Linked DNA regions of Homo sapiens. The protein of the gene in region 1 purifies or fractionates together with the protein of each later gene. This does not show direct contact. Each region holds a gene or a part of one and is shown in the gene's direction. Other genes may lie near its edges. The genes, in order: RBM42, ZC3H18 and IGF2BP3.

What was found.
Region 2: the proteins of RBM42 (region 1) and ZC3H18 purify together in Homo sapiens (affinity purification with mass spectrometry; 2 studies listed by BioGRID and IntAct, with this or other methods). This does not show direct contact.
Region 3: the proteins of RBM42 (region 1) and IGF2BP3 purify together in Homo sapiens (co-immunoprecipitation; 2 studies listed by BioGRID and IntAct, with this or other methods). This does not show direct contact.

Annotation. Positions count from the first base shown.
Region 1 is NC_000019.10:35,634,991-35,638,214, forward strand, and holds the end of RBM42 (RNA-binding protein 42), read left to right. Parts: intron 1-2,167; coding exon 2,168-2,362; intron 2,363-2,451; coding exon 2,452-2,564; 3' UTR 2,565-2,695; downstream 2,696-3,224. UniProt on the Homo sapiens protein: Binds (via the RRM domain) to the 3'-untranslated region (UTR) of CDKN1A mRNA.
Region 2 is NC_000016.10:88,622,376-88,626,024, forward strand, and holds part of ZC3H18 (zinc finger CCCH domain-containing protein 18), read left to right. Parts: coding exon 1-13; intron 14-843; coding exon 844-969; intron 970-1,582; coding exon 1,583-1,687; intron 1,688-2,226; coding exon 2,227-2,370; intron 2,371-2,826; coding exon 2,827-2,892; intron 2,893-3,649.
Region 3 is NC_000007.14:23,313,357-23,317,005, reverse strand, and holds part of IGF2BP3 (insulin-like growth factor 2 mRNA-binding protein 3), read left to right. Parts: intron 1-3,352; coding exon 3,353-3,484; coding exon of another isoform or gene 3,485-3,537; intron 3,538-3,649. UniProt on the Homo sapiens protein: RNA-binding factor that may recruit target transcripts to cytoplasmic protein-RNA complexes (mRNPs). This transcript 'caging' into mRNPs allows mRNA transport and transient storage.

The DNA of each region.
Region 1 (3,224 bases):
CTAAATATCTCAGTATTTATCTCCTAAGAAAAGAGATATTTTGGCCAGGCACGGTGGCTCACACCTGTAATCCCAGCACTTTGGGAGGCGGAGGCAGGTGGATCACTTGAGGTCAGGAGTTCAAGACCAGCCTGGCCAACATGGTGAAATCCCGTGTCTCTAAAAATACAAAAAAATTAGCCAGGCTTGGTGGGAGGCACCTATAATCCCAGCTACTCGGTTGGCTGAGACAGGAGTATCGCCTGAACCCAGGAGGCAGAGGTTGCAGTGAGCCGAGATCAGGCCACTGCACTCTAGCCTGGCAACAGAACAAGACTCCATCTCAAAAAAAAAAAAAAAAAGAAAAGAGATACTTTTTGCATATCATAATACTATTATCAAGTCTAAGAACATTAACTAATTCGGTATCTTCTTTTCAGTTTATATTCGTATTTCCCTAGGTGTCCCAAAACTCTGTTAGAACTATTAATGTTTTTGCCCTGAACCAGCATGCATGCAGTTTTATGTCCTTCAATTATATCTTTTTTTTTTTCTTTTTTTTTTTTGAAACGGAGTCTTGCTCCATCGCCCAGGCTGGAGTGCAGTGGCGCAATCTCGGCAGCTCACTGCAACCTCCACCTGCCAGGGTCAAGTAATTCTCCTGCCTCAGCCTCCCGAATAGCTGGGACTACAGGCGCGCACGACCATGCTTGGCTAATTTTTGGTATTTTTAGTAGAGACGGGGTTTCACCATGCTGGCCAGGCTGGTCTCGAACTCCTGACCTTGTGATCCGCCTGCCTCAGCCTTCCAAAGTGCTGGGATTACAGGCATAAGCCACCACGCCCAGCCTCGATTATATCTTAATAAGAACGGTCTCTTTCCTGCCTCTTTGTTTTGTACATATTTTTTGAAGTGTCCAGGGCAGTTGTCATGTATGATGTCCCACCTTCTGAGTTTGTCCGGTTGTTTGCTCCTGGCATTGCCTAACTTGTGCTTAGAGTGTCCCATATCACAGACGCCATGGGGCAGCCGTGCAATGGCTGAGGAAGGAGATGGACCCCTCCTGCTTCAGTGTTTGACTTCCACCCCCTCTCCTGGGACCGTCTACCTGGCCCAGAGAAGACCCTAGCTCTGTGACCTTGGGCAAGTCACTTAGCCTGGTTTTGTTTTGTTTCTTCTTTTGTTTTTTTTTTTTTTCTTTTTTTTGAGACAGAGTCTCGCACTGTCACCCAGGTTGGAGTGCAGTGGTGTAATCTTGGCTCACTGCAGCCTCCGCCTCCTGGGTTGAAGCAATTCTCCCACCTCAGCCTTCCGAGTAGCTGGGATTACAGGCACCCACCACCACACCCAGCTAATTTTTGTATTGTTTAGTAGAGATGGAGTTTCACCATGTTGGTCAGGCTGGTCTTGAACTCTTGAGCTCAAGTCATCCACCTGCCTCAGCCTCCCAAAGTGCTGGGATCACAGGCGTGAGCCACTGTGCTTGGCTCACTTAGCCTTTTAAGCCTCATATTCCTCATCCCCTCCCTTGTGGGGACAGGGATTCATTGGGACAGAGCATGTTCAGTGGAAGCACAGGCCCAACTCAGAGGCAGCATGAGAATGTCAGCTGGGTGCAGCCATGGCGGAGGAGCAGGCAGCATGTCCAGGTCTCAAGGGGGAGTTAGGGCAGGCCTTGCCAAGGAAGCAGGGCTGAGGAAAGATGAAGCCCATGTTCCTGAGGTGCCATGACGGGCAGCCAGTGGGTGACAGGGGTCCAGGGGACCAAGGGACACCAAGGCTCAGAGGAAAGGCCAGGGCTAGGGCAGAGTTAAGGGTGTTACTACAGGAATGAGTGAGGTGGCCCTGGGGTGGGGAGGGCAGTGCAGTTCAAGGTTAAAAGTAAGGACTGGAGCCAGATGCCTGAGCTCTTGTCTTAGCTCTGCCGCTTCCTGCTTGTGTCACTGTGGGCAGTGACTTCACCTCTCTGTGCCTCAGTGTAAAAGCATGGTTGGGAGTGCCAGAAATGGAAACACCCCTCCAGGTGCCAGCAGAGCTCCTGGCGCAGGGTCAGTAGGTGTTGACCATTATTACTAAGAGGTCCCTAGGCAGAGACTAGATACCTCCGAAAAGGTGGGATCGTTCAGACAAGGTAGACACTGGGCAAGGCCTCTGCATCCTCTGATGTCATCTCTTCCCCATCCCCAGATGACTTCCGGATCTTCTGTGGGGATCTGGGCAATGAGGTGAACGATGACATCTTGGCACGCGCCTTCAGCCGCTTCCCATCCTTCCTTAAGGCCAAGGTGATCCGTGACAAGCGCACAGGCAAGACCAAGGGCTACGGCTTCGTCAGCTTCAAGGACCCCAGCGACTACGTGCGCGCCATGCGTGAGATGAATGGTGGGTGCGGCCTCCCCTGGGAACTGCAGGCGCGGCAGGCGCTGGCCTAAGCCTGACCCGAGCCTGCCTTGAACCCTCTGTCTCCACAGGGAAGTATGTGGGCTCGCGCCCCATCAAGCTTCGCAAGAGCATGTGGAAGGACCGGAATCTGGACGTGGTCCGCAAGAAGCAGAAGGAAAAGAAGAAGCTGGGCCTGAGATAGGGTCTGTGGCCAGGCACCCGCTCCCACCTGGCCGGGCGCTGGCTCCTCCCTCAGTTCTCTTTGGAAAACCCCCAGCTGTCCACCCATCCCCTGCCCCAAAACCAGTTTCAATAAATTTACGTTCATTTCCACCCCTGGCTGGGCATGGAAGCACGCTGTGGGGAGCAGGGCTTGGCTTCCCCACAGCTGGAAATGGCGGGGAGCCTTGAGAGTTTACCCAGGCAAACACCCAGGCGGGGGCTTCTGAGCCCTTCCTGCGCACCCATTCCCTCTTCAAACCTCTTCCACACATGCTGAGTGCTGCTTATTCCAGAGGAGAAAGGGGGGCCAATGGCAAGGGTGAAGCCAAGCTGAGGCCCATCCCCGTGTCCTGGCTACTTCCTGTGTTCTCAGCACCAAGGTAGGAGATCTAGGCCCTTCCCTTCTGGAGCTCACAGGCTTCTAGGCCCTCTTCCATCCAGCAGACTCTCACCAAGGGTCTGAACAGTGCTTGAGGACACAATGGTGACTAAAAGTCCTGGGCCCTGCACCGTTAGAGCTCAAGGTCCAGTGCAGAAAATAGGCCCGGTGCCCTGACGATAAGAGCCCAGAGTGGTCAGGGCAGGATGGGGGCGCTGACCTGTGGGTGAGGGGGCCCTTCCTGAAGGAACCGTCCACCCC
Region 2 (3,649 bases), on another chromosome or scaffold:
CTAATTCCTCCAGGTAAGGAGGGCTCGTGGGACGGCTGGGGTGTCAGCACCTTGGAGCCGTCAGCTGACACCATGTACCTCACTGGGTCAGGTGGGGAACACCCCAGCCCCACTGTTTGCTGTGGCGTCGTTACCTGCAGACCAGTCAGTGGGACTAACCCGGCGTTTATACCTTCAGCAAAGAGCATCAATGCCAAGTAGGACTGACGCAGTGACCCCAAATGGGGCACAGACCCCGGCGACTGAGCCTGACTGCTCCCAGGGAGTCACAGGCCACACTGGAGGGAGGGGCACCTGGATGCGGGAGGACGCACAGACCTGGGGCCCAGTGAGTCCATCTGTTCCTCCAGACTGGACCTGAAACTGTTGCCCCTCCACCTACGGTCCTGGTCTCAGCACACAGGAGCCCGGCTCCCGAGTGAGGGATGATGGAAAGCAGGGGGCCGGGGTAGACCCCATCATGCTCGGCAGGAACAGGAGGTGTGGGTGGGAGGCCAGGCTTCACTGAAAGTGGATGCAGATGAACAGATAGACACACACACGGACCCACGTGAGCTGGGTCTGCCCACTCAGGCAGCGCCACCCGGTAACAGCAGGCACACCCCACGCCCAGGTCTTGATTTCTAAATGCCGTTCTGCACCAAGGAGGGATGGCACTGAAGAGTGTCTGGGGGAGGCTGTATGCGTCTGTGCGCGCGTCTGCAGCTGTGCGCGCGTGCGCAGCTGTGCGCTTGTGTGTAGCTGTGCGTCTGTGGGTGTGTAGCTGTGCATGTGTGCGTCAGGGCGTGTGGGGCAGGGAGGGCCCTTCTCACTTCTCGCCACGCTCCGTCCCGCCCGCCCCAGGTCGTCTTCGCGGTCATCGTCCTACTCTGGCTCCGGCTCCTCCCGGTCGCGATCCCGGTCTTCATCCTACAGCTCCTACTCCAGCCGCTCTTCCAGACACAGCTCGTTCTCAGGAAGCCGGTCCAGGTATGTCCCCAGGGCCCATGAAGGGCCCTCAGCAGGTGCAGTGAGCAAGGGCACCTGCGGATGTGGCTTTAGTTGTGGCGCCAGTAGCCCCTTGGGGTATTGAAGGTCCCTGCTGGCAGCTGAACTAGGATGGCCAGGGGGTCGTGTCCTGTGTCCCCCACCAAACACCAGCCTTGCGGGCCCTCGTCCTTGTGTAGATGCGTGCTGTCACTGAGGGCCACAGCCTGAGATCCTCGAGTTGAGGCACTCCAGTCCTCCGCAGACAGGCCGAGGAAGGGGCCAGACCCAGCCCTGTCCTGTGGGTGTTTCTATGGGAGCTGTGCTGCTGCCCCACTGCCAAGGAGCCTGTCTCCTCCTGTCCTGCACACACATGAACGTGACACTCGCCTCCCGGAGGACCCGCCAGTGGATGCTGACACCTTCCACGCTCTCTGGTCTACTCTGGGCCTGTGTTTTTAGCAGATGACAGAACAGTCCAGAACTGAAGTTAAAACTGAGGCACATAAATGGAAATTCGTGGCCTTCTCCATGGGTCTGGGTGGGTCCTCAGTGGGCTTGGGCTGGTGAAGAAACACCCCCAGGCCCCTTCCGACACCTTTGTTCACTCCCCTAGGTCCCGGTCCTTCTCTTCGTCCCCGTCCCCGTCCCCAACACCTTCCCCACATAGACCTTCCATCAGAACCAAGGGAGAGCCGGCCCCGCCGCCCGGGAAAGCAGGGTGAGTGCCCAGCCTGTGGGCAAGTCCTGGCCGGCCAGGCCTCCACAGGCTGCAGCCTCCTCCCTCCGTCTCTATCTCTCATTTGTGTTTGGGACCAAAGAGGTGAGGATGCCTCAGGGGGCTGGCCCCAGGGGGTGACTGGGCTGGGAGGCACTGGGCACAGCTCCTGTTCTCACGGGCCACCCTTACACAGCAGCACTCCCTCGGGAACCCTGGGGACAGAGCACAGCCCTGGGGACACGGCAGCAGCCGGGTGTTCTTAAGGGGTCTTCCTATTAGCCTGCTCTCCCCACTGCCTGGCGGTGCCTGTAGCTCTTGCCTGTTAGAGGGGAGCCTGGAAGGGCTGCTGGGGGCTTTGAAGCCGTTCCCAAGCACTCTGACACCGATGGGTGGGGAGCCGTGTCCAGGCACGAGCGTGCTCACCGAGCGTCACAGGCATGCAGTGTCGTTCCCCGAGCTGTGGGTCCATTGAAAGGGGATGTAGGCCAGCGGGGCCCCGTCCACCAGCCCTGCCCTGCTCGAGCCTCCCTGTCTCACAGAGAGAAGTCAGTGAAGAAGCCGGCCCCGCCTCCAGCCCCACCACAGGCCACCAAAACCACTGCTCCTGTCCCCGAGCCCACCAAGCCAGGAGACCCTCGGGAAGCCAGGAGGAAGGAGCGGCCAGCCAGGACCCCCCCCAGGAGGTGAGCACTCCGGCGTCCGGGGCCCTCAGGCTTTCCGTGTTCTTGGTGCCACTGTGATGCTGGCACTGCTGGAAATCCAGAGTGCCAGGGTCCAGAGCCAGGTGGTGGGAAGCGCCCCCTAGCCGAGCAGCACCCAGTGAGCCCTTACCCGGGAACCTGCCCTGTCCCCTCCCTGAGCCTGTGTTTCTGGAGCGTGAAGGGGAAGGGACAGCGTGGCACGGAGCACAGGCCTTCCCGCCATGGCCCCGTCTGCACTGGAAGGTGCTGCCCCCGAGAGACTGTACTTTTTATCTTGACAAAACACTGAGCCTAAAGGAAGACAGGCCCAGGCCCTGTTCCAAGGTGGTAGCAAGGCCAGTCTGGAGGCTCACCTCACAGGGCTGCTGGTGGGGAGGGGAGGCCGCGAGGGGCTGTGGAGGCCACGCCCCCTGAGCCCCGCTGTTGCTTGTATTACAGGCGGACGCTAAGCGGCAGCGGCAGTGGCAGTGGTAGCAGCTATAGTGGTTCCAGCTCCCGATCCAGGTCATCCCCATCACCCTGTGCCTCTGTTTCTCCCTCCCCGTCGGGGCCAGGAAGTCCCAGAAGCAGCCAGTGTGGGTTGGGCTGTCTCCCACAGGTGGGCTGGGGCCCTTCTGGATCTGAGTCACCCTGGGGCTGTGGAAGGCTGCGGTTGAAGCTTTGACACAGGAGAAAATGGGCCAGGACTCGTGATAGGAAGACCCCCTCCCCCCACCAAAAAAAGATTCACAAACTCGGGGGCACTCAGGTCAGGAGGAGGTGCCTCTGCCCTGCTGACTTGATGCCCAGCACCCTGAGAGAGCACCTGCACCTGGGGAGGAGCCGGCAGCTTCCAGCCCAGCAGGGCAGAGGCTGGGCCTGCGTGACCTATCACACCTGTCGAGGGAACCGGCCTGAGGGGGTGGGGAAGCCGATAAAAACATCTGAGAAGAGAATACATGGAAAAGCTTTGTGGGCCAGGTGCGGCGGCTCACACCTGTGATCCCAGCACCGTGGGAGGCCAAGGCAGGAGGATTGCTTGAGCCCAGGACTTGACCAGCCTGAGCAACATAGACCCCATCTCCACAGAAAAAGATTTTTTTTTTTTTTTTTTTTTTTGAGACAGTTTCATTCTTGTTGCCCAGGCTGGAGTGCAATGGCGCGATCTCGCTACCTCCGCCTCCCGGATTCAACCTCAGCCCCCTGAGTAGCTGAGACTACAGGCGCACACTGCCACGCCCAGCTAATTTTCTGTATTTTAGTAGAGATGGGGTTTCACCAT
Region 3 (3,649 bases), on another chromosome or scaffold:
GGGCAAGTTACTTAACCTTTTTCTGTAAAACCAGGGATAAGAGCACCTACATCCTAAGGTAGTTTAAGGTTTACACAATATATGAAATGTTTAGAAAAGTGCCTAACACATGGGCAGCACAAAATTAGCGTGCTGGGGGTATTCAACAGACTATGGATGAATCAGACTAAGACCATGCCAAATTCATAAATATATTCCTTTTAGTGTATGATTTCTCCCACAAAATTTAGTATGGGTGTCTTGTCTTAGAACATTTAGTGGCTGTGTAAGAAGACAACTATTTAACCTTAAGCTGTAGTTTTTTTTTTCTCTTTTTTTTTTTTTTTTTTTTGAGACAGAGTCTCACTCTGTCGCCCAGGCTGGACTGCAGTGGCGTGATCTCAGCTCACTGCAAACTCCACCTCCTGGGTTCAAGCGATTCTCCTGCCTCCGCCTCCCGAGTAGCTGGGATTACAGGCATGTGCCGCCACGCCCAGCCAATTTATTTTTAGTAGAGATGGGGTTTCACCATGTTGGCCACACACTCAAACTCCTGACCTCAAGTGATCCGCCCACCTTAGCCTCCCAAAGTGCTGGGATTACAGGCATCAGCCACTGTGCTCCTGGCCAAGCCTTAGTTTTTTTAGCCTTAAAGTGTAACAGTAACTAGTAACAGTGCATACAGTTCTCTCCCCACCCCACCTCTCTCCCTTAAATCAAACAAAAAAAATCACTTTCTTTGACTTCTATTTTCTCTGGGCCATTTTTTCACTAAAAACCCAAAGCTGCTTTCACTTATGTGAAGAATGGGAAACGAAGGAGGTGCTTTGAGATGTGGGTGGTTAGGTGAAGAAAGAAAATCATGTGAAGAAATTTATTCCTTCACAGCAGCCTTGTGATCCAGGCAGTTCAAATCTTAACTCAGAATTGTTGAAAACTGCTTCCTATCCCAAACTCTCAGGGTCACTTTTAGTTTGAAATCTTAAAAGATAAATACAAACATGTCTTTCCTTGGTGCTGAGCTTTTAGTCTTATAAGTAGAATTACTGTCCTGCAACTCCTATGATGTTTGTATGATAGGAACTTCAAAGTTCTTTCCCTGTATTCACTAATAAAACTCATGTTTTATAGTTAACTTAAATGTAACACTTAAGCCATAGTAGTTAAATTTTATTTATGTGATTGGTGACAATGCTAAATGAATGTTTTACTTTAGAGATCTAAGGAATGGTAAACCACCTACCCCGTATTTTTCCTTACAAATTCAAGAGCTTCAGTTTTGGAGGATAGTGTATATCCCTAGTGTCTTTTTGACTGTCTTAAGTAATAGTAATATCTACGTCATTGGCCTGAGGCATTAAGGATCATTGGAATATAGGGTATCAAGATGAATTTTGTTTTGTCGGTAGTGCCCTAAAATGAGCTCAGCTTTCTGAATCAGTGAACGCGTGTTGGGTACTATTGTTTTTTGTGGTTTACCCTGGCAGCTTGTCAAACCAACTCTCAGGCTCCTTTCTGCTTTGCTGTATGTAATAGGTTGTTTATATATAATAGGTTGTTTATATAGTTGCATGCAGTAGGTGATAGGATGTATTGACTCTAAATATCAGAAGTGTCTTGGCCAGGCGCGGTGGCCCACGCTTGCTATCCCAGCACTTTGAGAGGCCTAGGTGGGTAGATCACTTGAGTCCAGGAGTTCCAGACCAGCCTGGCCTACATGGCAAAACTCCATCTCTACTAAAAATACAAAAATTAGCCAGGCATGGTGGTGGATGCCTGTAATCCCAGCTACTTAGGAGGCTGAGGCAGGAGAGTCACTTGAACCCAGGAGACAGAGGTTGCAGTGTGCTGAGATCGCACCACAGAGAAAGAGACTCTGTCTCTAAAAAAAATAAAATAAAAAAATAAAAAAAAATAAAAGGCAGGGCACAGTGAGTGGCTCATGCCCATAATCCCAACACTTTGGGAAGCCAAGGTGGGTGGATCACCTGAGGTCAGGAGTTCAAGACCAGCCTGGCCAACATGGTGAATCCCCGTCTCAACTAAAATAACAACAAAAAATTAGCTGGGTGTGGTGGCGGGCACCTGTAATCCCAGCTAGTTTGGGAGGCTGAGGCAGGAGAATGGCTTGAACCCGGGGGTCGGAGGTTGCAGTAAGCCGAAACCATGCCATTGCACTTCAGCCTGCATGACAGGGTGAGACTCTGTCTCAAAAAAGAAAAAAGTGTCTTACCTTGATGTTGTAGCCTCTTTAAAATATTCAAAGGAAAAACCACCTTTCTAAGAGTATGAAACACATTTAAATTGAAAACATTTTTCTCAGCAGGTTTCTAACTGGCCCATGTAGATGTGAGCTTGACTTTTAGTGAGCTTGGCATAGCTGACTCTGCAGTTCTGTCTCTTTTGCTCAAAAAAAATGTGACCAGGTGTGGTGGCTTGCACTGGTAATACCAACACTTTGGGAGGCCAAGGCAGGACTCTTGAGCCCAGGAGTTTGTGATGAGCGTGGCAACATAGCAAGACCCCCATCTCTATAAAAATTAGTGGCGCAGTGGCTCACACCTGTAATTCTAGCACTTTTGGAAGGCTGAGGTGGGCACATCACTTGAAGTCAGGAGTTCGAGACCAGCCTGACCAACATGGTGAAACCCCATGCCTACTAAAAATGCAAAAATAATTAGCCAGGTGTGGTGGCTAGTGCCTGTAGTCCCAGCTACTCAGGAGGCTGAGGCAGGAGAATCACTTGAACCTGGGAGGCGGGGGTTGCAGTGACCCAAGATCGTGCCACTGCACTCCAGCCTGGGCAACAAAGTAAGACTCCGTCTCAAAAAAAAAAAAAAAATAAGTCAGGTGTGGTGTTGCATGCCTGTAGTCTGCTACTCAGGAGGCTGAGGTAGGAGGATCGCTTGAGCCCAGGAGGTTGAAGCTGCAGTGAGCTATGATTGTACCATTGCACTCCAGCCTGGACAACAGGAGGACCCTGACTCCAACAAAAAGGAAAGAAAAATGCAACTGATGTCTCATGGCCAGCATGAGAAGTTTTACCTATCACAATTTTAGTACGAATGGCCATTTGCCCACAAAAATTCGTTTTTATTAGGTTATTAATTGCCTTTAACTGTTTTCATCAGAAGAATATGGTTTATCCTTCTTTCACCAAGCATTCAGTTGCCTCTACTGTGATGGGCAGTAGTTATTGTCAACCTTTTAGGACTTCTAACTGCTCTCTTCTATGTTATTTTCAACAATCTATGAAATGTAGATGTATCACTGCAAAGGGCTATCCCACTTGGATTTGGGCCATCTTTCAAGTTAACTGACCTTTTCCATTTCATACATGAATGACACTAATAGGATGTGTTTTCATCTGCAGGCTCAGGGAAGAATTTATGGAAAAATTAAAGAAGAAAACTTTGTTAGTCCTAAAGAAGAGGTGAAACTTGAAGCTCATATCAGAGTGCCATCCTTTGCTGCTGGCAGAGTTATTGGAAAAGGAGGCAAAACGGCAAGTACTTCAGCAAAACCTGTGCAGTGGTATGAAAGGGAAAGCGTTGAAAGGTACTTAGGAGTTCCAAGTCCCCGAATTTTGGCTAATTTATAAAAAGCAGGACCATCTTGACCAAGGTTTGGAGAAGATTGCCTTTTGTTTCCTGTCTGAGTGTTGGTGCCA